Regions from separate parts of the Homo sapiens genome. Here all the other regions are linked to region 1. Evidence: fine-mapped expression QTL. A gene starts in region 1. Each other region holds a variant in brackets. All regions are shown on one strand. Distances are from middle to middle.

Region 1 (5,107 bases):
AAGACCCTTATAATTTGTCCAAAGACAAAGAGAAGCAGTGACAGAACCAGGACCAGAAGCCTGTCCTTATAAACCCTGATCATGAGTTCTCTGCACCACCACACAACTGTGTCTTTCCATGCCAGGACCTGCACATCAGTTCACCTTTCCTGGTCTCCAATCTCTGCCTGGAACAAGGACACTGTCCCAGAACTCAGATGAAATCTGGGAAGCATCCTCATTTCCTCATTCTCCCCCCCACAATCCAACTGGTCCGAGTCCTGTCCATTCAACCTTGTATCTCTCAGTATTTATTCTACTCATCCCCACAATGTCCTAATTTAGGCACTTTTCTCTTTCACATGGGCTTCCGCTACCACTCCTTAAAGGTCCCCCCTGTCTCTAGCTTCGTCCTCTCATTTATTCCCCACAATGGAGGCGGAGGCGGCCAGGAAGATCTAACAGGCAGATCTTATCGCGCCACTCCCTTGACAAAAACCATCAATGGTTCTCTGTAACTTCTTCCCTCACAAGAGATAGAGTCAAGAAGGGCCTTCTAAACTGGCTCAGGGGCTTGGATTTTCTCCAAGTTATAAAAAGGGAACTGATGTCTGACTAAATGTCTCTTCTGTACGAGAAACCTTATCTATGTTACTTAATTGTCTCATCGGTTTTGCAAAATTAACATATGGCCCCTTTGCAGACACTGTTCCCTCTAGTCCTCTCATCTATAACCGAGCACCTGAAATAACCTTAAAAAGCCTCTCCTGGCTCGCCAATCTTCCAACATATCCACATGCTCCCCTGTGCCACCACCTCTTGTATAGATTTCCATTACAATGTGTTTATTTAGCTATTTCCCAAATATGCCTGATAAAAGGGATCACTCACATCATTCCTCTCTGTACCCTCAGACCCCAACAAAAAAATCTGTTTCATAGTAGGTGCTCAATAAATGGTTGATGACTGGGTTATTAACTAAAAGGAGGGTCCATCATGATACAGAAATGCCTAAGCATTAAATCAATAAATACATCTCCCCCAAAGGCCCATAGAGCAGTACCAGGGACTTTTATTAATAGCATTCCTTCAGCAGCTCCACATTTCCCAAAGTGATGTGAGGTAAAGGAAGTGCTCAGACCAGGTGTCTAGTTTAAAGAGAGGAAGTCCTCTAGTGATCACCTAGGCTGACCCAAGTCTCAGTATTTCTTTCTTCAATGTTCCCTCTGCTTTGTACATACATACCCCCACAGCTGTGTTATCTTGTACATACTAGTACAGGAGAGAGCAAGGACTTTCCATTTTCCTACCCCATCACCTAGCACAATAGCTGATACATGGGTAACTACCAATCAATGTGTTAAGTGATAATATCAGCTACATTTAGTGCTATGTACAGGTATGTCCTAAGGATTTAATATGCATTATATCTCATTTACTCCTTATGACACTATCACCAGGGAGGTACTGTTCAACTTTACTCCCATTAAATAGACAAGAAAACTGAGGCCCAGAGGACAGAACAAGATCAAACAAGCATTGACTGAGGGCTTCGCACATTTTATATTTTCACGTACTTTATTTCATTTATTCCTCTGTACAATCCAGCAACTAAGCTGTGTATTATAGTCCCATTTTTAGACAAGAATTCTAAGGCCTGGAGAAACTGCACAGTAACACGCAGCTTGCAAGGCCAGGAACCAAATCCACAACTGTCGACTCCTGGGCACCTTCTCTTTTTGCCTGGCTATCTTGCCCCTCAGTGGCATCAGGACTGGACTGGTCTCTCCAGGCCCGTGCTCTTCCACACTGCACAGAGCGCTGCCCCCAGGGCAGATGGTGCAGCCTGGGCTCTAACGCCGAGGAGAAAGGAGTGCCAGTCCCACTCCATGCCTAGAGACTGCCATCCCCGCAACTGCCCAATTCCCGCGTCCGTAACACGGGTCTCTCCCGCTAAAACACACGCTTTATGACTCTGGGGGCCGCGTGGGTCTTGCAGCCAGGGCCTGGCGCAGCCCTCGCACATGACAGGGGAGGCCTAACCGTGTGTTGGGTCAACATCACCGGCACGCCGCGGCAAGGGCTCCCGGGATCGCGGCTTCGCACCCGGACTGGCTGCGGTGGGGGAGCGGGGCGCCCGCCCCAGGCCCCGCGGGGACCCACGAGCACGAGGCGGTGCCTGGGAGTCGGGAGGCCTGGGTGGCGCTCAGGCAGCCCGCGCAGGCCTCGCCCTCCGCGTCTCCAGCGAGGCGGGGGCGGCGCCTGGGTCCAGGCCGGGGCCGCCGCGGGAGTCCCGGCCGCCCTCCCCTGCCCGGGGCAGCCCCCCGGCCGGACCCGTTACCGGTTCCGCTGCTCTTTGAAGAGCGCCGTGAGCGCGCGCAGGGCCTCCAGGTCTTGGATGGGCGCCGGCACCATGACGCCCGACAGCCTGGCAGGCGGCGGCCTGGGCGCCGCCATCTTGCCGCTCACAGCTGGGTCGAGCCTGACGAGGAGGAGGAAGGCGAGGAGGACGAAGGGGGAGGATGACGAGGAGGGAGGAGTAGGATGGCGAGGAGGAAGGGGGAGGCCTCGCCCTACACAGCCCTAACCGCCGCCGCCGCTGCAGCCCGCGCTGCCCTGAAGCTGCGCCGCCGCCGGAGAGCTCTAGGCTGAGCCCAGACTCGCCTCAGGCGGGAGGAGGAGACGGCGCCGCGGGGGAGGGGGCGCCGGCGGAAGTCCCGCCTGAGGGGAGGGGGCGCGGCGGAAGTTCTGGGTGAGAGCGGGGAGGGATGCTGGGGGTGATTGACTGGGAAGCGTCGCAGACGGGGCTCCTCCGAGGGGAGGGGACGCCGGGGGGAGGGGGACCTGTGTTGATGTGGCCGTAACAGGGTCTCGGTCTTGGGAGCGGGTATCGGGAACCAGAGGTTCACCCTGAGAAAGAGGGGCGCGTCCTATAGGAGGGTGCCCGCGGACAGAGGGGTCTCCCCCAGGGGAGGGGATCCGGGGGGTAAGGGGCCTGTGGAGGGTGGGGCCGTAACAAGGTCTCGGTCTTGGGAGCGGGTATCGGGGACAGAGGTTCACCTTGAGGAAGAGGGGCCCTCCTGTGGGAGGGGGCCCGCAGACAGAGTGGTCTCCCCCAGGGGAGGACATTCTGGGTGGAGGGGACCCTCTTGGGAGGAGACGCTGACTGAGGGTCTCGGGAACGAAGGGGGCCGGGCAGAGGCTCCCACTGCTAAGGCTGAAGACCTTGATCCCACTGCTCAAGTGGGTTGATCAGTGCCCCCGCCCGGGTCCACTGGAAGCTGGAGCGGTCTGTCACTAGCTTGCAAGTCTCAGGCCCTGAAAACGCACTTCCCAGTACTTACTGATCATTGCTGATCAATACCAGACCACTTACCAGGCACTTTGCCTCTAGTGAGTATACATTGCTCCAGCTCCTCAAAGCCTTAAAATACCGTTCGAAGTCAAGAAGCTAAGTTACACAGCAATAGGGTTAGAATTGTTTTTTTTCCTAAGGGAAATGAATATATTTCACAGGAATCAGACAAGGCTTCTCTAGCTGGTGTTGATAACTCACATATTTTCTTTCCACTGCCCTTTATTACAGTGTATATACTTTCAACAAAAATTGTTGCTAAGCCCTGCGCTAGGTGCTGGAGATGTAAAGATTAATAAAAGACAGTTCCAAACCTGAAGGAACCTCACAGACTATTGAGAAGGAGAGAAGCAAACATAACTGAGTATAGTTGTGAACTGCTATAACTGTACAAATTGCTGTGGGACCACTTAAAATATATAAATACATACCCTTTACATTCTGCTTGGAGGGTAGGAGTGTGCTTATAACATGGCGCTTTTAACATTCTTTGCTAAATAAAATGTAAAGATAACAATAAACACCACCAGAGTATGCAGAAAAAGTGAATCCTGGTGGGGCATGGTGGCTCATGCCTGTAATCCCAGCACTTTGGGTGGCCAAGGCAGGAGGATTACTTGAGCCCAGGAGGTCGAGGCTGCAGTGAGCTGTGATCACACCACTGCACTCCAGCCTGGGTGGCAGAATGATACCCTGTATCAAAAAAAAAAAAAAAAAAAAAAAAAAAGGAGGGAGGGAAATGAATGCTGCTGCACAAGCAAGTTACTTGATATTGTCATTCAGTTTACCCATTTAATTGAGTATGTATTTATTCATTCCACGAATATTGCGGTGTACTATGTGCCAGGTATTAGATCACTTATTAGTAGCAGTGCTCAAGACAATGCAAAATGTTTAACACTCCTTAAGCTAACAGGGCAAAAATCTCTTAATTTTCCCTTGAGGAGCACAGGATAGTAAAATGTACTTGTTATGCACCAAAATCCTGATCTTTAGGCCAGACACGGTGGCTCATGCCTGTAATCCCAGCACTTTGGGAGGCCGAGGCGGGCAGATCACTTGAGGTCAGGAGTTCAAGATCAGTCTGGCCAACATGGCAAAACCCCCTTTCTACTAAAAATTAGCCAGGCATGGTGGCGGGTGCCTGTAGTCCCAGCCATTTGGGAGGCTGAGACAAGGGAATTGCTTGAACCTGGAAGGCACACGTTGCACTGAGCTGAGATCATACCACTGCATTCCAGCCTGGGCAACAGAGGGAGACTCTGTCTCAAACAAACAAACAAAAAAACCTGGCCTTTAGTTTTCTTATTCTCAAATGTAACATTCCCAGAAAAACATTCCCTATAATATTCATACTTCTTGCCTGGAATATTGTAATATATTCCTGATTGGTCTTTTGGCCTCTGCTCTTGCTTCCTTACGTTTTAGATCGTTTAAAAAATATTTCAACATTTAACTCTGCCCAAAACCCTCTAAGGGATTTCCATTTCACTCAGAGTAAAAGCCAAGTTCTTCCAATAGAAAAGCCCCTAAATGACCTGCCTCCTCCTTCGCCATCACCTCCAGCCCCTGTGGGCTCTAATCACATCTACTAGCCTCTTCCTCTTCCATTGTGCTTCAGCCATACTGACCTCCTTATTGTCCTCTGTCTATTTAAAAGGAATAAGCTGAGGTAAAATCAATATAAAGAGTTTATTTGGGCCAACGTGAGCATTGCAGTCCAGGACACACATCCAAGTTGCCTTGGGGAGTGCTCTGGAGAACGAAAGAGAA
Region 2 (5,107 bases), 71 kb before region 1:
AGATTATTTTATGTATATAAATGAACCTGCCTTCAAAATTGAGAACTGAAGGGGCCAAATAAAGTTTGTCTTTACATGTTGAACTTTTTCATACAGTACAGACTTACTTTAAAATTAAGGTATGCTTATAGTAAAAGATTTATAGGCACATATATTTGACATGGGATCATCAAGTATGTGACTGCTGGGAATATTTTAAATCAGGGAGGAGGAAGGAGGAGGAGAAGAAACTGAATAGCAGTTCCATAACCTTTAGCAGAACGGATATATGGCCCATCCTAGTCAATACAATTTCCTTGGCGGGCGGAAGGTAGATAAACTAGATCATCTGTCTGTCCGATTTGAAAAATGCACTTAGCTTTATGAAATAAACGTTTGGTTTTTCTTCTAATAAAGATTCACTTAAAGAGGTTATGACAATAGTGAAAAGAAGAAGAATAGGGAAGAAAAAGGTAAACCATACATTCCTTATTCTAACAAAGAAGAAGCTGAAGAATGCTTTCTTCATGTTTATAGCATTAGTATCTTTGTGCTTCTTACAATAGAAACCAAAACAGAATCTCCATTTAGGTCCACAAAAGTTTAGAAGTAAACTAATCACTACAGTTGTAGCAAGGAAATACTACACAAGTCGAGAACAAAAAAACAAGGTAAGAATAGAAGTCAGTAAGGATTTGACACCTCCCTACCATGACGAGGTAAAGGGAAGTCTAGCAATTCCTTTACAATTCAGGAAACACTACATCTATCACGTGTACAGACTTAAGCATTAAAGACTCATGAGAATTTGGGATAAAATACATTTCTGTGCAGATTTTCAATCTGAGGCAACGTACCTTGATTCTCTTAAATCTTGCCCAAAGACAAGTATCTCAAAGAAAGATGACCATCCTTCCAGTTGATACCATGCTCCTGGCAGTCCAGTGCCTGTCCTTAGAGAGAAATGCTCCTGGCACAGCCAGCCCAGAGGACACATCACCCCCCTGTTCCTTTCTGACAGGCCTCACCACACGGACTTTTGCTACAGCTCCTAGTGGACATGTGTCATTCCACCACTAAAGCGACTGTCTTCTCCAGAGCATGCAGCACACGGCAATTCTCACTCAGCAAGTGCTAGCTGAGTTAAATCACACTTGGTCTCGGGGCCTTGGTTTCTTCATTTAGAAAATGATGGTGGAAATATCTTTTCAGCCCTTTCCACAGAGGTATCATAAGGCTCCAACAAACTAAAGCAGATGAAAAGAGCTCTGGAAAATGGAAAGTGCCACACAAGTGTAAGAGGGCCATCCAGCAGGTGGGCACCATACTCACTGCAATGGATGAAGTTACACAGACAACACAGACACAGTTGGGCTTGAAAGAGTCTTGCTCAAAATTCAGAGGAATCAGGCAGTACACAAAGATTTTAGGAAAATCTGTGTCATGAGTAGTTTTGAGATTCTGATTCAAAGAGGCAAGCATGGTCCCCAGATGATGCCAGAATGGAAGCTCCACAGAAGATATTAATACCTTGCCTGAATTACCCGTCAAAGGATCCCCAAGCCAGCAAACATTCGTATTTGATGAATGGGTGAATCAGAAACAAGGATAAGAGGACCCCCAAGAGCTCCCAACTTCAACCAGGAGGGAGTCTAAGGGGCCTGGCTGGCCTAGGAGACGCAGACTGACCAGCCTCCAGCCTGAAGTCCTGCAGGAAGTCTATTTTAAACCCTTTTCTCCAACCTTTTGGCAAGTTCTCACCATGGGGCAGGAAGTGAGCACAGGCCTGGGAACTCAATAGGCAAACAAATCCAAATTCTACCCTGGGCTCTGCACCTAACTGGATGGCCTCTCCTTAAAATGTGGTTACCAGAACCTGCTTTGCAAGGCTGATGCAAAGATTAAAGTTGATAATATATGTAATTCACTAAGCACAATGCAAGGACATAGTAAACACTAAACAATAAATCATCAGTCCCTTTTGTCTTCTGGGCAAAGGAGGAACCCAAATTAGGCTAGATGATACGAAATCCCTCCCAACTCAGATCTTTAGTCTTGGAGCAGAGACAGAGCCAAATTTCCCTTAAAGCCCTAGCTGGGTTAGAAGTGAGACAATCCATCAAGACAAAACACTGAGAATTACTGGTCCCGTGATAAAGACCTGCTACATAACCATCCATTCCATTTTCCCAAAACTATAACCAAAGTCATCTGAGTGCGAGTGAATTCCATCCCTTGAGGCAACAATGAGCAAGGCAAATATCTGTAACACCCAGCTGGAACAAGGATTTGGCTACAAGAATAAAGAACACTCTAGCACATCCAGAACAAGATTTCGGCGTTGTGTCGGTCTTTGGAAGGAGGAAAAAAATCCCAGAGGTAATGCTTTCAGGTTCAGGCCTTTTGTTGACACACGTAAGAAACTGAGAGAAACAGAGGGCATTTGAGTTGATACTCAAAGAATGAACTCCTTCATACCCTCTAAACTGTTTGCTGAGAAATCAGCAGTGCTATTAGCAACTGCACAAGTGACAGGACACACCATCGACTTCCTGTGCGCCCCAGTGACCTCTGCACAGCAGCACTTGGGCACACTCCATATTTACTTATGGTGCAATCTGATCCTGACTTCAGTGAGTTATTTCGCAAGCCTTTTAAGGGTTACTGCATTTTGTTCCTATAAGAGGCCAGTCCAAATTAGCAACAAAAGAATAGTTAAACACAAGAAAAACCACCTCTTTTGTGCTCAAGAAAGGCAGTCCTGGTCATTAAAAAGGTAAAGTGCTTTATTCGCTATCAACTTTCTTTTGCAAAAATCAGTCCAGTAATTTCCCAAGGGGG[GA/A]ATCAGTAGTCTCACTCTCCTGAAGATGAGGATTGCCAAAATGGTGCGCCCATATACTAAAAGTGCAAGTTGTCTAGCGTTTGGTTCTGCGCCATGTCTCACAGGAATTATTCCAGCTATCAACGGCTACATAACAAATTACCCTAACATTTAGCATCCTAAAGCGGCCGTTTTATTTTCAATCTTTCTCCCCGCTTTTGTTTTTCAGACTAGATGATTTCTACTGATGTATCTTAAAGTGTACTGGCTCTTTCCTCTGTGATCTTTCTTGAGGTTAAGCACATTCGGTATTTTTTTTTTTTTATTTTAGATACTGTATTTTTCAGTTCTAGGATTTCCATTTGGTTCTTTTTTATAGTTTCTATTTCTCTGCTGAGATATCCCACCTTTTCACTCTTATGAAGCGTATCTCCTTTACATCCTTGAGCACGGTTACATTTGGTACTTTAAAATCCTTGTCTGCTAAGCCCAGTATCTGTGTCCTCTCACAGTCAGTCTCCGCTGATCATCTTTTCAATTGAGAACAGGTCACATTTTCCTGAACGTCAAGCAATTGTAAACTGTATCCTGGACATTACAGGATACATTATGCTGTGGCAATTCTGGATTATATTATATTCCTCTAAAGAGTGTTGATTTTTTTTTTTAGAGGGCAATTATTAATTATCTACAGTGTAAGTTGGACTTAATACTATAAACTCTAGGGTGGGAGCTCAAATCTCAATACAATGACTTCATCCTTAGCTTAGCTGCCTGGAGCCTGCCCCACACGTGTGATTCAGCCATTAGCAGAGATTTAGGTAGCTGACACCCAGAGTTTGGGGTCTGTTTTCTACTTTCCACAATTCCCCCCTCACTTTCCAATGCCATGGTTGCCCTCAAACTGTTCTTTGATTCTTCAAGCTAGAAAGACGGAAGATTTTGTAACTGACTTTTCACTGCCCTGCATGCCACACACTGTGTCATTCCCTTCTTCCAAGCATCAATTTCACTCCAGAATCTGCCCGTTTGTGTCAAATTCGAGTGTCTTCACATGGCTATTTTTTGTCCAAAGTTTATAATTGCTATTTGAAGAAGGATCAGTCCAACAGTAACTGACTGGGCTACTAACTGAAGCAGGACCTATATCCCTTATTTTTTTTTTCTATTTTTTACTTTTTCTCATAATACTATGGGTCATAAATTCAGGAAGGACTATGCCCAGTAGGGGGGCCCTGATCTATGTGGCATCAGCTGGGCAAGTAAGAAACTGAGGATGGATCTACTCCCAAGATGGTTTCTCGCACACATCTCATGCCTTGATGTTCCTTCACCAGACCTTTCCTCTCTCCTCATTGTATCTTATCTTCCAGGGCTTTTCCATGTGTATTCAGCAACTCGCAGCAAGGTGATCTCTGGGAATCTATACTTCTTACATAGTGACGGGCTTCTAAGAAGCCAGAAATAGAATCAGCTAGACCAGTTAAGGGCTATGCTACAAATGGTATAGGATCACATATTTGATTGCTCACAGCAGCCACAGGGCCTGCCCAGATTCAAGTGGATGGAGAAATAGATGCCAACCCTCGACAGGGGAGTGGCAAAGTCATACTGCAGACACACATGTACAATGCAAGACATTCTGCCACCATCTTAGAAAAATATAATCTGGCAGAAATTTAATTAATATTTAACTAAGCAAATCAAATGCCACCCGAAGTAAAACTCCAGAAAAATACAGAAAGGCGAGATCAATCTGAAGCATGTGGTCCAACTGCCCTGAGATCTTTCTTACCATTCTCTCACATTCTCAATATAACTACCTTTAAGCTCTTCTGCACATAAGAGGTTTCTAAAAGCAGCCTACTAGGTCCTCAAAGACTTCATACTTAAATATTATATTCCTTTTATATCCATTTTAAAACATCTAGAAGAAAAGGCTTATGATGCTATCGTCCATAAACATAGGATATAGATCTAAGCTTTGTTTTTTAAGATAATAGGCAATAATAACTAGTGTTTATTAAATATCTACTGTGTGTTAGAAATTTGTCTAGGCTCCAAAGAGCCTATATATTAACATATACATATATATATATACACACACACACACACGTGTGTGTGTGTATATATATGTGTGTGTGTGTGTGTGTGTGTGTGTGTGTGTGTGTGTGTATTCATATAAAATATATATCTCTCTATCCAAGCTACTTTCTAAGCACCTCAAGCTTTCACTCCAAAAGAGTGAATGTCTTCCAAGGACTATATTCTAAATGAAGCCATACATGTATAATACATACTAAGAAA
Region 3 (5,107 bases), 180 kb before region 1:
TGCTAGTAACAATATTCTTTTACTAAGCTTGCTTTTAATAGTTTTGATATTTACTAGAGCAACTTCTCCACTTGGTTCTTCATTCAGAATATCTTGGCTATTCTTGGTTTTGTTGTCATTGCATTTCGTTATACACTTTAGAATTTATTTAAAAAATTTATTTCCCAACTCTCTGTTGCTAGTATGTAGAAATTCAATGAACCTTTGTATATTAAACTTGTATCCAGCAACCTTGCTGTATTCATTTATTCATTCTAACAACTTATGCAGACTTTTTTTTGCATTAGCTATATAAACAATCCTACTGTCTTAGTTCTTTCCCCTTGATTACCCCTCCACCTCCCTTTTCCCCCCTGTATTTCATGGGCTATTTCACCTTTCCAACATAAGGATAAATGTAAGCAGTGAATTGTGATTGACTTTTGCCTTGTTCTTAATAGCAAAAAGAAAATCTTCAACATTTCTTCAACCAGTCCAATGTTTGCTATAGGGGTTTTTGTAGGTATTCTTCAGAATAAGAAAGTTCTCTTCTACTCCAAATTTGCTGTTTATTTTTACTATCACAATTGAATGCTGAATTTTATTATACTTTTTTCCCTGTACTAGTTGATAATGATTTTATTAATATGGTGGTTTTCTAATTGACTTAACATTTTTTTTTTTTTTTTTTTTTGAGACGGACTCTCGCTCTGTCGCCCAGGCCGGACTGCGGACTGCAGTGGCACAATCTCGGCTCACTGCAAGCTCCGCTTCCCGGGTTCACGCCATTCTCCTGCCTCAGCCTCCCGAGTAGCTGGGACTACAGGCGCCCGCCACCGCGCCCGGCTAATTTTTTGTATTTTTAGTAGAGACGGGGTTTCACCTTGTTAGCCAGGATGGTCTCGATCTCCTGACCTCATGATCCACCCGCCTCAGCCTCCCAAAGTGCTGGGATTACAGGCGTGAGCCACCGCGCCCGGCCTTTCTTTTAATTTTTAAATTTAATTTTTAAAGACATGATCTCACTATTTTGCCCAGGCTGGTCTTTTACTCCTGGGCTCAAGTGATCCTCCCACCATAGCCTCCGGAGTAGCTGATACTATAGGCATGTACCACTGTGCCCAGCTTTTAAAAAATGTTGTACCAATCTTACATCCCTAAAATATATAGTTTGTTAATATCATGTTTAGGGTCTTTGGATTTATGTTAATGCATGAGGTTGGCTTTTCCATGCTTTCAAAGTTATTGGGTTCAGGGTTCAATATGTCTACTAAGGCTAACCCTAACTGCATTGTTCAAATACTTAATATCCTTAGATATTATTTTTGTCTGCTTATTCTAGTACTAGGAGAAATTTATTAAAAATTTCCACTGTGATTGTGGATTTCTCTACTTTTCCTCTTAGTTCTGTCAGCTTTTGCTTAATATACTTTAAGGCTATGCTCCATACTGATATAATCACCCTTATCTTGCTCTCTATTCTTTTCCGAAACTACATCTTCCCTGACATTTTTTTCCTGTCTCAAGAATACCCGTTAGTATTTCTGTTAGTGAAAGTCTGCTGGCAATGATTCACTAGAGTTTATCTAAAGTATCTTTATTCCCTTTTCATTTTTCTTTTTGCGAGGGGGCAGGGCAGGGATATAGAATTCTAGGTTGGCAATTATTTACTTTCAACCCTTCAAAGATAGCATTCTATTTCCTTCTGGCTTACATATTTCTGTTGGTAAGTCAGCTGTCAGTCCAATATTTACTCCTCTGAAGGTAATCTGTGTTATTTCTTGTGTAAATTAACTACTGCTGTATAACAAATTATCCCAAAACTCAAGGGCCTACAATAAGAACATCTGTCAGTTCCCGTGAAGCAAGAAAACAGATGCAGCTTAGCTGGTTTCTCCAGCTCTGGGTCTTGCATAAGGATGTGGTCATCTGAAGGGCTGGCTGGGCAGGGTCTGGCCTCCTGGACCACTCAGGTGGCTGTTCCTTATAAGATGGTGGCTGGAGGCCTCCCTCAATTCCTTGCCACGTGAGCATCTCACAACATGGCAGTTCACTTCATTAGAGTGAGCAAGTGAGAGGGCAAGAGTGCCAATAAGATGGAAGTTCCAGTTTTTAAAAATCTAATCATGCAAGTGACATCCATTACTCTTACCATATTCTATTAGAGGCAATTTAGTAGGTCCAGCCCATGCTCAAGAGGAGACGATCACAGAAGGCATCAGGTAGAATCATAGGAGTCATCTCAGAAGTTGCTGCCCCCATTTTCCAAGCTGCTTTACAGATTAAATATTTGTCACTCAGTGACAAATTTTCAGTGGTTTTACAATGTGTTGTTTTCTATGATTTATCCTTCTTGGGGTTCACTAGGATTCTTGAATCTGTGGCTTGATGTCTGTCTCAGTCTTGGAAGATTCTTAGCTAGCATCTCTCCAAAAGTGCTTCTGCCCCATTGTGATGTGCGAAACAAATCTTTGTGGCGCGTGCCTTATCCTCCATTACAAAGGACATTAGGTA[T/G]ATTTGCTGTGTTTCAAACAAACTGGCAAACAAGGTTCCTACCATTTATTAGTTTGCCAGGGCTGCCATACAAAGTACCACACACTGAGCAGCTTAAACAACAGAAATTTATTCTCTCTTCTGAGGCCTCACTCCCCGGCTTATAGATTATTGTCTTCTCCCTGTGTCTTCTCGTGGTCTTCCCTCTGTATCTGTGTCCAAACTTCCTCTTTTTGTAAAAGAACAGCAGTTATACTGGATTAGGGTCCACCCTAATGACTTTATTTTAACTTAGTTCTTTAAAAACCTTGGCTCCAAATATGGTCACATTCTGAGGTTAGGACTTTATTATATGAATTTTGGGGGTACACAATTCAGCCCATAACACCCACCAAAATGTCCTTTTGCTTGTAATCGTGTTTCCCTTCAAATGCACTACAGAATTTTTTTAGAAGAGGTGAAAATCATGTTACTACTCAAAAACCTGCCAAAATCGTAAATGTGTGCCCTGTTGGGATAAGCATATGTTGTTTGTGAGAAGTTGTGTGTGTTGAGATAAAACATAGTTACTTTACCCAAAGACATAAATCCCTGCTATACTCGTAAGCTGTAAATAACTCCCTTAACCCATGATGTAACGGAGGAGGTTAGTGTGGGCGTAACCAGTCAGAACAATGCAATTGTGAGCTTATAGGAAAAGAAGCACACTAAGTGCCCAGATACCCAGTCAAAGCCCAGCCTGTCAGAGCACGTGGAGGATTGAGTGAGTGCTGACCACCTGAGTCTCTTTAGAGTGCAACGAGCTGGCTGAGAGCACTACGTGCCAACCACATATTGACTCCAGCCCCTTATGCAGACTGGGATGAGAAGTTTCTAAGTGGTGGTCACTAGACACGCTGGCTGGGGCAAGAAACGTGCAAGTGAGACTAAGGCAAAAAGAGAGAGAGAAAAGACTGACCAACCTCGGGAAATGGTGGCCCTGTCTTCTGCTTGCTCACAATTACTGCTTGGCTTATTGAAGGAACGAAAAGAATCACCTCTCTAGGCTAAGTGATGCTCGTGTGAATTTTCTCTCAATACTCTGCTTTCTTGGTAATATTCAAACCCCAAGGTTTGGTGGTGACTTTTGGGTATTATTACTAAAAACTAAAGCACCCATTTTTTCCTCTCTTCTTAGACCCTAAATAGGGATATCAGAACTTAACCTTTCACTGTATCCTATATGTCTTTTACTCTATCATCTATATTTTTCATCATTTGGTCTCTCAGCGATCCCTTCTGGATGTTTTCGACTGAGCTATTTTCCTTCCATTTGCTATTTATCTTTTTTGTGGCTAAACTCATCCATTGATTTCTTAATTTTAGTTATATTTTTCCAGTTCAAGAATTTTCATTTGGTCCCCCTGTCACAGTGTGTCCCTTCTTTTGCTGACGTTTCCAATATTGTCCTTTGTCTCTTTAAACACATCGAATAAAGTTATTTGAAATTCCTGCCTGAAGACTCCACTATCAGGAGCCCCTCTAAGTTTGTTTCTATTTGTTATCGCTTCTTTTGACTTTCATATCGTGTTGTCTCGTCACCTCCTATTTTTGATTGAGACAACGTATGAAAAACTATACAAATAATGCAAGACCAAGGGTAGAGCCGTTTTCCTGAGATTTCTGTTGCTAGACGCCTGAGTGAGCAGCACTCCAGGATGTAGTGCATCACTGACATCACACGTCATAGCACACAAGGGGAACTTTAGTTCAGTTTCTGGGGTGCAAATGGTTGGAAACTGAGTGTGGTCTCTGGGAGGAACTACTTCCGGTTCACTGCGACTCTTCTGATTCAGCCCACTGGGTCCCCTGCCTGTAGCAATGGAGGTTCACCGGGACAGCATCCCACCACCTTGGCTCCCAGGACTCTCATAAGCACTCTTTGGCCTCTTAGCCACTCTGCCTCCTCCTCTGAAGTGAAAAATACTTTCAGAGGAAACAGCAACCCAAATACACTTATCTTCCTGGGCCTCTTTTCACTCCCAGACCCTGGCCCTGTAATTCCTTGCTGTGTCTTGCTAGCTCCCAGGTACCTTTAAACAGTAGCTGAAACTATTCTGACCTGTGTTTCAGTTGCCTTCAGAGGGGTTTGGTCAGAACTACCTAGTTGGGAAGTGCCTTTTCTTTTCTAATATGATTACTTCTCTGAGACAAATCTTCTCTAACCCCTTATCTTCCTTCCTTGACCTCCCACAGTATGCAACCTAAAACAAAGATAAGGCTTTAAGCCCTAAGATGTTGACTGCAGCATTTCTAATGATAAGAAGCAGAAAATAAAATGTCTAACAAGAAGGGAATGGTAGCCGGGTGCACTGGCTCACACCTGTAGACCCAGCTACTCAGGAGGCTGAAGTGGGAGGATCAATTGAGCCCAGGAGTTCAAGGCTGCAGGGAACCATGGTTGTGGCATTGAATTTCAGCCTGTGTGATAGAGCAAGACCCCCTCCCCACCAATACATAAATATATTTAAAAAAGAAGGGAATGCTCAAGTCCATTATGGTACATTTTTGTGATAAAGCCATTACAATTTTTTTGAGGGGTCTCTAGCATACTGAGGAGCCTCATGCTCTAATGTTGAGAGCAAGTTTAGACTGT
Region 4 (5,107 bases), 63 kb before region 1:
GCTTGGTGGTGGGTGCCTGTAATCCCAGCTACTAGGGAGGCTGAGGCAGTAGAATCGTTTCAACCTAGGAGGCAGAGGTTGCAGTGAGCCAAGATCACGCCACTGGACTGTAGCCTGGGCAACAGAGCAAGACTCTGCCTCAAACAAAAAAAAAAAAAAAAAAAAAAGAGATAACATTCTTCAAAAGAAAGACAAATTACTTCCTTGTTAGTTCTAAATGTGTATTTACTGTTTTCTAATTAAGAGATTTAAAGGTAATACATTAATATAGTATTCTGAAATCTCAAAATAAATAGCAAAAAACAACTCATATTTTTAATGTCTTGGATCTTTAATTTTATATCATAGCCTTCTTTTGCTAAAGAGTTAAGTGGGAAAATCTAGATTAGAAGTCTAGATTAGTAGTACCATGTTAAAACGAGTCTTGACCAACTCCATCAATTTCACAAAGCTTCATCAACCTCTTTTGTTAAAGGTGTAGCTGCCCAGATTGTTATCGTGAGATACCACTGCTCCTTCAAGAACAGACCTGGGACAGCCCATGCAAAAGGTAACCCTGGACATCTTGTCATAGCAGACAACAAAGACGCTATTACAGGCTACTAGGGTCATGTCAGAAATTCGGAATCAGAAACAACTTGATGAGGCTCCCACCGGCCAGCAGTGGCACATTAAACATCAGAAAGAATTACAACGGTAACGGACTGAAAACAAATCAAGCGGTTTTACAGCTATGGCTTCATAATGAAAATAAAACAAAACAAACCAACTCACTGGTCATCTTTGAATGATGCCACAAAACCAACTCATTATTCTGAAGATTGGTAATCAAGAGGGAAAACAATCGAGCACTTATCCTGCCTTTCTTCATCCAGTGTACCTCACAGAACCTAAGAATTGGTTAGGGAAAGTTTCTCTTTAAAAAATATTCCTGCTAATAAACAAAAAATGAACAATAATGTTAAAATGCCACCATTTTGCAACCCCTAAAGAATTCATGGATCTAGGTGATCATTAATGACTGCTAATATCACAGAGACAACCAAGCCTCATGTGCTTCTTGACGAAAGTAGTATCATCAACAGCGAAACACTACTGCAAAAAATAAACAAAAAAAACTAACCCAAATCTGAATATGCCTCTGGAACGAATTTTCATTCACAGGAAATGCAAGGTAAAGAAGAATATGTTAAGTGCCACCCTGAAGACATACTCATCAAAATCTAAAATCTAGAAAAGTCTACAGGAAAAACAACCCAGTTTCTCCAACAAATAAGTAGCAAAGAGGAAAAAAAGAAGAGGAAAGGGGAACCTATACACTGGAGTAAAGTTATGTCAATCACTTGCCCTTATCTGTAAGGTGTTACAGATAAGGTGGCCCTTATCTGTAAGGTGTTTCAACAAAATAAACTTGAAAAAGATTATTAGACAATGGGGGAAATCTGAATACTATTTATTTGATAATAAATGTTATTATTAGTTATTTTAGATGTTTTCTTCATATTATACTTGTGTCTGAAAACTCCTTATCTTTTAGAGTAACTGATGAAATATGTTGGAGCTTTGATTCAGTCCACGGCAACTGGCATAAGAATGAGTGGAACTGTGGAGGAAAGAAGAATGGTGATGAAGGGGAAGCTGCTGAAGCCAGGGGATGGCATATGGAGTATAAGTACACTTTCTTCTTAGTCTATGTTTGAAATTTTCCACGTTAAAATGACAGAAATAAAATTAGAGGTTGGAAGAGATGAACTGGAAGTCTCCTTCCAGCTCTTAAATTCTATGATATTAACTAAAATAAACCTAAAAGAAAATTAATCTATCCCCACCTAACACATTCACAATTTTACTCATTAAAATCATTTTATTAAGAAAGTGTTTCTAATGAGCATCTGGAAATTAGTAACGAAAGAACAGCCAGGAAAAATTACTGTCTTAAAAAATAAGATTAATGAGTAAAATGCCCTTCCAGATATTTAAAAGTCTTATGAAACTAATATTAATTAAATCAGGCACTAGGGCAAAAAAAAAAAAAAAAAAAAAAAGACAAGCAAATGAAGGGAACATCGTGAAAGATTTTGAAGTGAGCAAAAAAAAAAAGATTAGTCTCCTGTCTAGCTCACCTGTCTCAGTTAACACTGTCATTTCGTATCTTTGAGCAATTTTACAGCTTTGTAAGTTACAGAAAACTTATATTAATACAGAATTATTCCTGTCCATTAAAATGCAAATTAGTTATATCTGCCTGGACTGCAACTACTTTGTTGATAGATCAGTTTCTGCATTTTTTTGTGTGTTCATTTCAGTGTTCCTTTATGGCATATAAACACATACCTCTCTGAATTCTCCCTTCTCCAGTTGTTAACATCTTACTGGTTCCCTCCAATTTGTTTGGAGGGAACCAGTAATTGATCCAAATAAATAAAAGAATTTAGGATATGATATAGGTAGGTGGGAGGATCCTCAAGCCCAGGAGTTGGAGAATATAGCAAGCTACGA[C/T]TGCACCACTACGCTCCAGCCTGGGGAACAGGGCGAGACCCTGTCTCAATTAAAAAAAAAAAATTAGTGGAAAGGATAAGATTATTCACTAAATGGTACTGAAATAATAACAGATAACATTTAGGGAACATTAACTATGTACCAATCTGTATATTAAATGTTTATATTAAAATACAACCTGGCCGGGCACGGTGGCCCATGCCTATAATCCTAGCACTTTGGGAGCCCGAGGCGGGTGGATCACCCAAAGTCGGGAGTTCAAGACCAGCCTGGCCAACAAGGCGAAACCCCATCTCTACTAAAAATACAAAAATTAGCCGGACATGGTGGTGGGTGCCTGCAGCTACACAGGAGGCTGAGGCAGGAGAATCGCTTGAACCTGGGAGACGGAGGTTGCAGTGAGCCAAGACCACACCTCTGCATTCCAGCCTGGGCAACAGAGCAAGACTCTATCTCAAAATAATAATAATAATAATAATAATAATAATATAACCCATTTCAAGAAAAAGAAGGGCAGAGAGAGGCTAAGTAACTTTTCCAAGATCATATGCCTGTAACAGAAGAAATCAAGATTCAAACCCAGTCAGTCTCACACCAAAAGATTTTATAATCTTGGATAGTCAAAAGACATAAATAATTCATTTGGATCCATAACTCACTCCTTACTCAAAAATAAATTCTAGATAAATAAAAAATGAGAACTAAGTACTGAAAGAACTAGACTATGTAGGTTTGTATTTCCACAATCTAAGTGGAGAATTTACTTAAAAAACAAACAAACAAACAAAAATCTTCTTGGCTGTCAGTTGTCAAAAAAAAAAAAAAAAATCCAGAGGCCAGAAGGATAAAATTGATAACCTCAACTAGATTAAACACAAACAAAAAACGACTACAAGGCTAACAGAACATCAGAAATAAATTCAAACAAAAATTACGTAAACAATAGTTTACTGTATGTATGACAGAAAGACTAATTTCCAGAAAATGCTTTTTAATAAATGCATTTTAAAGAGTAACCTAATATGCAAAAACAAACATAATGGTCACTGAAAAACATTAACGAGAAATAGTAATTAAATCAGATCTGCAAAAGGCAACTCGTGCAATCTTGTGTTGCACTGATGTGCAACTTAGAAATCTCTCTAAAGTTTTTAAATACACATAATTCTTCAACCCAGCAATTCAACTCCAGGAATTTATAACCTGGATTTGATTTACTTAACCGAAATTTGTACAAGGATGTTCACTATAACATTATTTGTAAAGGTTAAAAGAAAAAAAAAGCAACCTGAAAGCAGCTGGAAAGTCTATAGGGAACAAATGAAAAAATTATGATGAGTCTATATAGTTAAATATTATTCAACTATTAAAAACATACAATGAATATACACATGCTAAAGTGCAAAGATGTACAAGTTACATCATAAGTAAAAACAGCAAGTTGAAGAATAGTGCAAAAAATGAAAACAAAAAACATATAGGTGTGTATATACAAAAAAAGACCTTTGAAAAGAAAACAAAAAAAAAAGGATATGCAGATCTATAGAAAACAAATGGAGGCTGGGCAAAAAGGGGAAAACTTTGTAACTTTTTTTTTTTTTTAAGATGGGAGTCTTGCTCTGTCGCCCAGGCTGAAGTGCAATGGCACAATCTCAGTTCACAGCAACCTCCGCCTCCCGGGTTCACGTGATTCTCTGCCTCCGCCTCCCGAGTAGCTGGGACAGCCTCCCGAGTAGCTGGGATTACAGGCATCCGCCACCACACCCGGCTAATTTTTGTATTTTTAGTAGAGACGGGGGTCTCACCATGTTAGTCAGGCTGGTCTCAAACTCCTGACCTCAGGCAATCTGCCCACCTCGACCTCCTAAAGTGCTGGGATTACAGGTATGAGCCACCACGCCTGGCTGAAACTTTGTAACTTTATGTTTCACTGACTTCAGCTTAAATAATTTTTAACAACAAAGCAAGCATTATTTGCGTAATACAAAAATTTAAGCCCTTAATATGTGGAAAAAATACACTATTTATTGTAGAATATGTATTAAATATGTATTATGTAATTAAATATGTAATACCTACTGCATAACAGGTACTACAGTATGGCCTAACCTGGGGTTGCAAAGATTAAAACAGAATGCAAATCCCACAACCTGGCAACAATTATTGTAATATATGGATATCAGAAAATACAAAGCTAAAAGGAATGTTTTTTGAGCTTTCAGAGAAAAGGCAAGGCTTGCTACAAGTGAACAAGATTCTGAACTGACAAAAATATATCAAAAACTGGAAACAAGTATACAAAATATATCAAAAGACAGGAATAAGTACATTAACATGAGAACCCAAAACTATTTTTATAAAGAAACGTATGAAGAAAACCTTGGGATTTTAAAGCCAAACAATTACATAAATTAAAAAACACATGCTATAAATACAACTGTTTCCATTCTCACTTTTCAGTCATAGCATTGAGAACTTTACTGAATATCTATCTTGTCCTAAAAAGATCACCAATGAGTAAATGCAGTGGTTTGGCAGAAGAATGGCTGGGGTGGAAGAGGCAGGTGGAAAACCCTGATTTGTAGCATTTGCTGGTTTCCATGGCACA
Region 5 (5,107 bases), 110 kb before region 1:
GGCCAATAGGCCCGAGTCATGAAGAATAAAAGACTGAGAAGAGATCCTTTCTTGTTTTAACAGGAATGATGGGTTAATAGGATCATGAAAATTTCCAGAGAGTTGAGTCACTTGCTATTCAAAAGCTATACCAAGGAAACTCGATCCACTCTTGACCCTCTTGAATTTGTAGGTTTATGGTTTTTGCCAAATTGAGGAAATTATTCTTTTGAATACTTTTTCGGCCTTTTATTAAAGTCCCACATATCCCTGAAGCTTGGTTAACTTTTTTGTACAGTCTATTTTCTTTCTGTTGTTCAGACTGGATAATTTTTATTCCATCCTCCAGTTCACTGATTTTTTTCTTCCAGCATCTCCATTCTGCCACTGAACCCAATCACTGAGTTTTGGCTTTTTATTTCAGGTTGCTGTTTTTTTAGTCCTAAAATTTCCACGTGGCTTTTCTTTGTATCTTCCATTTCTTTGCTGAGATTTTTTCATTTGTTTCCAGTGTGGTCATAATTGCTTACAGAAGCATTTCTATGATGGATGCTTTGAAATCCTCATCAGATTATTCCAACATCCATGTCATCATCTTGGTATTGGCATCTGTTGACTGCCTTTGCTCACTTAAGCTAAGATTTTCCTGGTCCTTAGTGTAACCCATGATTTTAAATTGTACTCTAAACATTTGGGTGTAGTGGTATGAGAAGACTGAATCTTAAGTTTAAGTCTCCTATTTTAGCAGAGCTCGTTCAACAACAGCACGTGGAAGGCAGAGCAGCTCACTACTGCCAGGTTGTGGTGAAGATCTAGGTCCCTCACTCAACCTCCTTTGACACCCGGGGAGAGAGGGGTGCCTCACTACTGCTGGGCAGAGCTGGTTGTTCATGCTCCCTACTCGGTCTCTGCTGACAGTACAGCTGGGCAGGGGTTGGGGGATGCCTCATTACTGCCCAGTGGGGATAAAAACCTGGCTCCCAGCTCCATCTTCTCTGACACCACCTAGCAGGGGTGAGGGGTGCCTCATTATAACCAGGGGAAGGTTTCTGTTTCGGCTCCCCATTCAGCCATTGTTGGTGGGCTGGGGCCACATTCTTTTCCGTGGTGTTTGGCTGAAATAGGGCACTTACTGTCTAAAAGTTTTCTGTCTTAAGTTGTCCCCTTCTTGGTCCTTTAGGGAGAAAGAGTGAGCTTTCCTCAGGGCTTTCTGGTCTGCACCCATTGGTGTTTCTGGGTTGACAGCTTCTCTAACATTAATCAGTCTGAGAAAACCCAGGGAACTTGCCACCTTATCGTTTCTGAGTCTCAAGGCCCCTTGCTAGTATGCCGTCTTCTCCCCACCTGTCACGTGTTTCCATGATTGTTTCATATATGATGACAGGGTTCTGGATGTATTTAGCTGGAGAGATACCGGGAAGTGCATCTGCACCACCTTAATCCAGAATCCCAAGTCCAATTGCCAACGTATTGTTTTTAAGGTGCCAAAGGACTTCCATTAGCAAATGAAGACACAAGTCACTGATCCAGGTTTAAATTTCAGAAGATTAGGATATATTTGTGCAAACAAAAATAAAGGCAGTTAATATGTACTAAGCATTGGCCAGCACTGTTCACGTTACATGTAGTATCTGACCTAATCCTCCCTATGAGCCTCTGAGGCAGGACTTCCTGTTATCCCATTCTACAGAGGGGGAAACAGGCTGGCACAGGTTCACATCCACTCCACAGCAGGGCCAGGGTTGAACCTAGGTCTGCCTGACTCCAGAGCCAGACCTCCTCCCACCACACTGCATAAATTCTGAAACAGGCAACAAGGGGGCTTTCACACCCTGCTCTCATGAGAGCAAACAGTCCGACGGGCACAGTGGCTCATGCCTGTAATCCCAGCAATTTGGGAGGCTGAAGCGGGTGGATCATTTGAGGTCAGGAGTTCAAGACCAGCCTGGCCACCATGGTGAAACCCTATCTCTACTAAAAATACAAAAATTAGCTGGGCGTGGTGGCACACGCCTGTAATCCCAGCTACTCAGGAGGCTGAAGCAGGGTAATCGCTTGAACCTGGGAGGTGGAGGTTGCAGTGAACCAAGATCGTGCCACTGCACTCCAGCCTGGGTGACACAACGAGACTCCGTCTCAAAAAAAAAAAAAAAGATGATGCAGTCTGCCTTTTTGTTTGTATAAGCGTTTTTATTTGGAATTTCACGAATGTAGAATACTTAGATATTAAAAACATTAACTTCAAATGTTTAAGGGCAAGGACTCCTGATTGGTAAAATCATTGGAGTATACTTTTCCACTTCTTTATCAATCAGAGATTTTTTTTTCAGAAACACATTATTAATTCCTAAATATTTTAAAAATGAAAGCCCCAGAAGAATGGCATGTTTCCAAATAAAGTACGAATGATTCTTTTTCTTTGTACTCTCAAAAAGTATGTACGAATTCTATTTCATCTCTGCTAGATCACAAACCACAAACTACAGATTTCAAGTCTTCGCTTTCTTGTCTGTAACCATGCAAGGCAATATAGAATTGGTCCTTTCACAGCATCTGTGCTTTCAGATCTAAACTTTTCCTACAAGGTTA[T/G]GTACCAAAGGAAGAGCATTAGAGGAAAAAGGATACTACATAAACACCACATAAAAATGACAAAGATGCCTACTGAGGCCTGAAATCACTACCAGTGGTTGCGTACTGCAAGACGGCCACTCACCCCAACAGCAAGTCTAGTCTCGCTCCCAGCTGTGAAGTTTCTCTCCTTAAAAGAACAACAACAACAACAAAAGCCCAACATAACCCTCTTCCTTCCAGTCCGTCTTTAGTCTTCTGAATTATAGTCTTCTGAATTATATTCTGGAGTCTCAGAATGCCAGAACTGGAAAGTGCCTTCAGTGACTATGTGGTCCAACAAAAATCATACTTCCACTTACATACGAGGCCCAAGAAAGAAAATTATCCTCATTAAGAAGTTGAAGAAATTGATAATTTCTCGAGATGAGTAGGGTCCTGTTACTCCAATATTATGCATTCTGTACTTAGAAACATGAAGAAATAGAGGTGTTGCTTCATTATGAAAGGGAAGAAGTGGTGGCTTCTTGCAGGAGAGAAGAACGATGCAAAGCTTTATTTTGGGGAATCTGGTCACAGAGAAAATTCATAAATCTCATACTCAAGAGCTGAAAAGAGCCTGGAAAAACTCAGTCCAGTCTCCTTACTTTACAAACGAGGAACACAGCAAAATTATTTTCCCCAACTCATATAATCAGGAGCTTCTAGATCCTCTGATACTCTGTATCCATTCCACTCACCAGACATGCCTGAGTGCCAAGATGGAGAGTGCTCACATCCTAGGACCTTTTTGTACAAATATCAAATTAATTAATTATCAAAATTGAATGTATACAAAGAAACTAGTATTAATTTCATATATTAATCAAATGTTTACTTTTCCCATTCTCATCTTTTCCATGTGAGCCATCCTGTGTACCAAGAACAATCTTGTCAATCTCAGACTGCTCTTAGCTGGGAACTCAGTGACACGATTTTATTCACTTAATGGAGAATCCTAATTTCATACAAGCTCCTCTCTCTCTTTTTTAGGCTAATTGTACCAGATATATGCCCAATTACTTCTAATCATTCGTTATTTCAGTAAAAACCTCAAGAATAGTAAACGCGGACTTATAAGGGTTCCAACTCTGAACAGAGGTTCTACTTTGTTTTACACATTAACAACCCTATAGTTAGCATAATAACGAACACACTGAGCATGTACTCTACTTATGCTTTACAGGTATCATATATTAATTCATCTCATCCTCCCTAGGAGGCATGTACAATTATCCTCATGAAGATAAGTTTCACTGAGACGCAAGCTCCATAAAGGCCAGTATTCGTTCACTGCTGTATTTCCTGAGCTTGGAGCAGGGCCTGGCACATAGTAAGTTCATAATATATACTCACTGAGTAAATGGATAAATGACATTAATAGGGGAAAAATTAAGGTACAAAGAGGTTACAGAACATGATCAATGTCATACAGCTATTGCATAACACAGCTGGGATTCAAACTACTGAGTTTTTTATTGCATTAAGTCAGGGGCCAGCAAACTTTTTCTGTAAAGGGCTAGAAAATAAATAGTTAAGACTCTGCAAACCATACGGTCTCCACTGCAACTACTCAACTGTGTTGTTGTAGTGTGAGAATGGCCATAGGCAATATTAAAGAAATGAACACAACTATGTCCCAATAAAACTTTATTTACAAATAGAGGCCCACAGCATAGTCTGCTCACCCCTACATTAAATCCTCATAAGAATCAAGCTCTTTCCACTACACCTCATGGTCTCTATGAAAGGGAGACTTGCAGACCATTCATGCAGTAGGAATTTGCTTTTGCATTTTTAGGCTATAAAGCAGAATCTCAATTCTCATTTGCATCTTGAAATCAGAACCATGACTCCAGCAGGCAGCTAGAGCTTAAGTGAACAGGCAGGTGCGGAGGGGTGCGTGCAAGTGCACAGACATAGTTAATCCAAAATCTGTTTTCACAAGAAAATCTGACCTTACATTAAGCACTGTGATCTGGAAACAATGCAAAGACTCCATCTGGAAGACAGGCAGGGCACAGGATTGGCCATTTCTGTTCTCATAAGGAAAACAGCCTAACCAAACTAAACACTAACCTGGTTAAACGTGAGGCTGAACATAGCTGAATGCATTAATCATCAGACAGGACAATAAAGGAAAATATGCAAGCTCTCTCCCAACTGTTTACCACTTGTATTTTTCTTGGAACAGAAATGCATTTTATATATTATATGAACCTGTAAAAAACACATACCTGGTAAAACATTTGAACATATACTCTAGATCAAGAGAATACTAAAACATGAAATATTCCATCATCATTAAAGAATTTTGAGTTCACAAAGGTTTAAACACCCACCCGACTCCAGCTATGGTAACAACGACATAACAGAAACTAAACAGCACTTTATGCTAACTGGATATAATCTTGATAATTATAGGCTATTCAGTGTGTAACAAAGTATGACAAACCTCTCCCTAAGGCTGATCCATCTCAGTAAGTAAGGTATCACTTAGGAGTAACATGGCAAAGTTTGA

Which allele goes with the higher level. Alleles are on the strand shown, and positions count from the first base shown. SD is a standard deviation of normalised expression in the study named. Not every link is listed here.
With allele GA in place of A in region 2, the expression in transverse colon of the gene that starts at base 2,666 in region 1 is higher (small effect, 0.23 SD a copy in GTEx).
For the expression in esophagus muscle of the gene that starts at base 2,666 in region 1, C is the low allele of the variant in region 4 and T is the other (small effect, 0.26 SD a copy in GTEx).
As copies of G replace T in region 5, the expression in testis of the gene that starts at base 2,666 in region 1 goes down (small effect, 0.14 SD a copy in GTEx).

The links. PIP is the estimated chance that this variant, and not a neighbour inherited with it, causes the effect.
Region 2: its variant is the best candidate, but not a certain one, in a credible set for the expression of ATXN10 in transverse colon (GTEx, PIP 0.56).
Region 3: its variant is the best candidate, but not a certain one, in a credible set for the expression of ATXN10 in sun-exposed skin (GTEx, PIP 0.70).
Region 4: its variant is the best candidate, but not a certain one, in a credible set for the expression of ATXN10 in esophagus muscle (GTEx, PIP 0.84).
Region 5: its variant is the best candidate, but not a certain one, in a credible set for the expression of ATXN10 in testis (GTEx, PIP 0.82).

The regions. Positions count from the first base shown.
Region 1 is chr22:45,669,393-45,674,499 of GRCh38, reverse strand. It overlaps ATXN10 (ataxin 10), which reads right to left and starts at 2,666. Exons shown (of 12, transcript NM_013236.4): 1 at 2,321-2,666. The coding sequence starts at 2,436. RefSeq lists silencers at 2,034-2,363, 2,694-2,743, 2,804-2,993.
Region 2 is chr22:45,740,548-45,745,654 of GRCh38, reverse strand. The region is part of intron 9 of ATXN10 (ataxin 10); the gene reads right to left. Among named protein-coding and RNA genes, the nearest start is that of MIR4762, 17 kb to the left of the region's middle. The variant GA/A (reference allele first, on the strand shown) is at 2,821.
Region 3 is chr22:45,849,641-45,854,747 of GRCh38, reverse strand. No RefSeq gene overlaps it. Among named protein-coding and RNA genes, the nearest start is that of MIR4762, 92 kb to the right of the region's middle. The variant T/G (reference allele first, on the strand shown) is at 2,494.
Region 4 is chr22:45,732,751-45,737,857 of GRCh38, reverse strand. The region is part of intron 7 of ATXN10 (ataxin 10); the gene reads right to left. Among named protein-coding and RNA genes, the nearest start is that of MIR4762, 25 kb to the left of the region's middle. The variant C/T (reference allele first, on the strand shown) is at 2,500.
Region 5 is chr22:45,777,112-45,782,218 of GRCh38, reverse strand. The region is part of intron 9 of ATXN10 (ataxin 10); the gene reads right to left. Among named protein-coding and RNA genes, the nearest start is that of MIR4762, 19 kb to the right of the region's middle. RefSeq lists a silencer at 4,524-4,583. The variant T/G (reference allele first, on the strand shown) is at 2,569.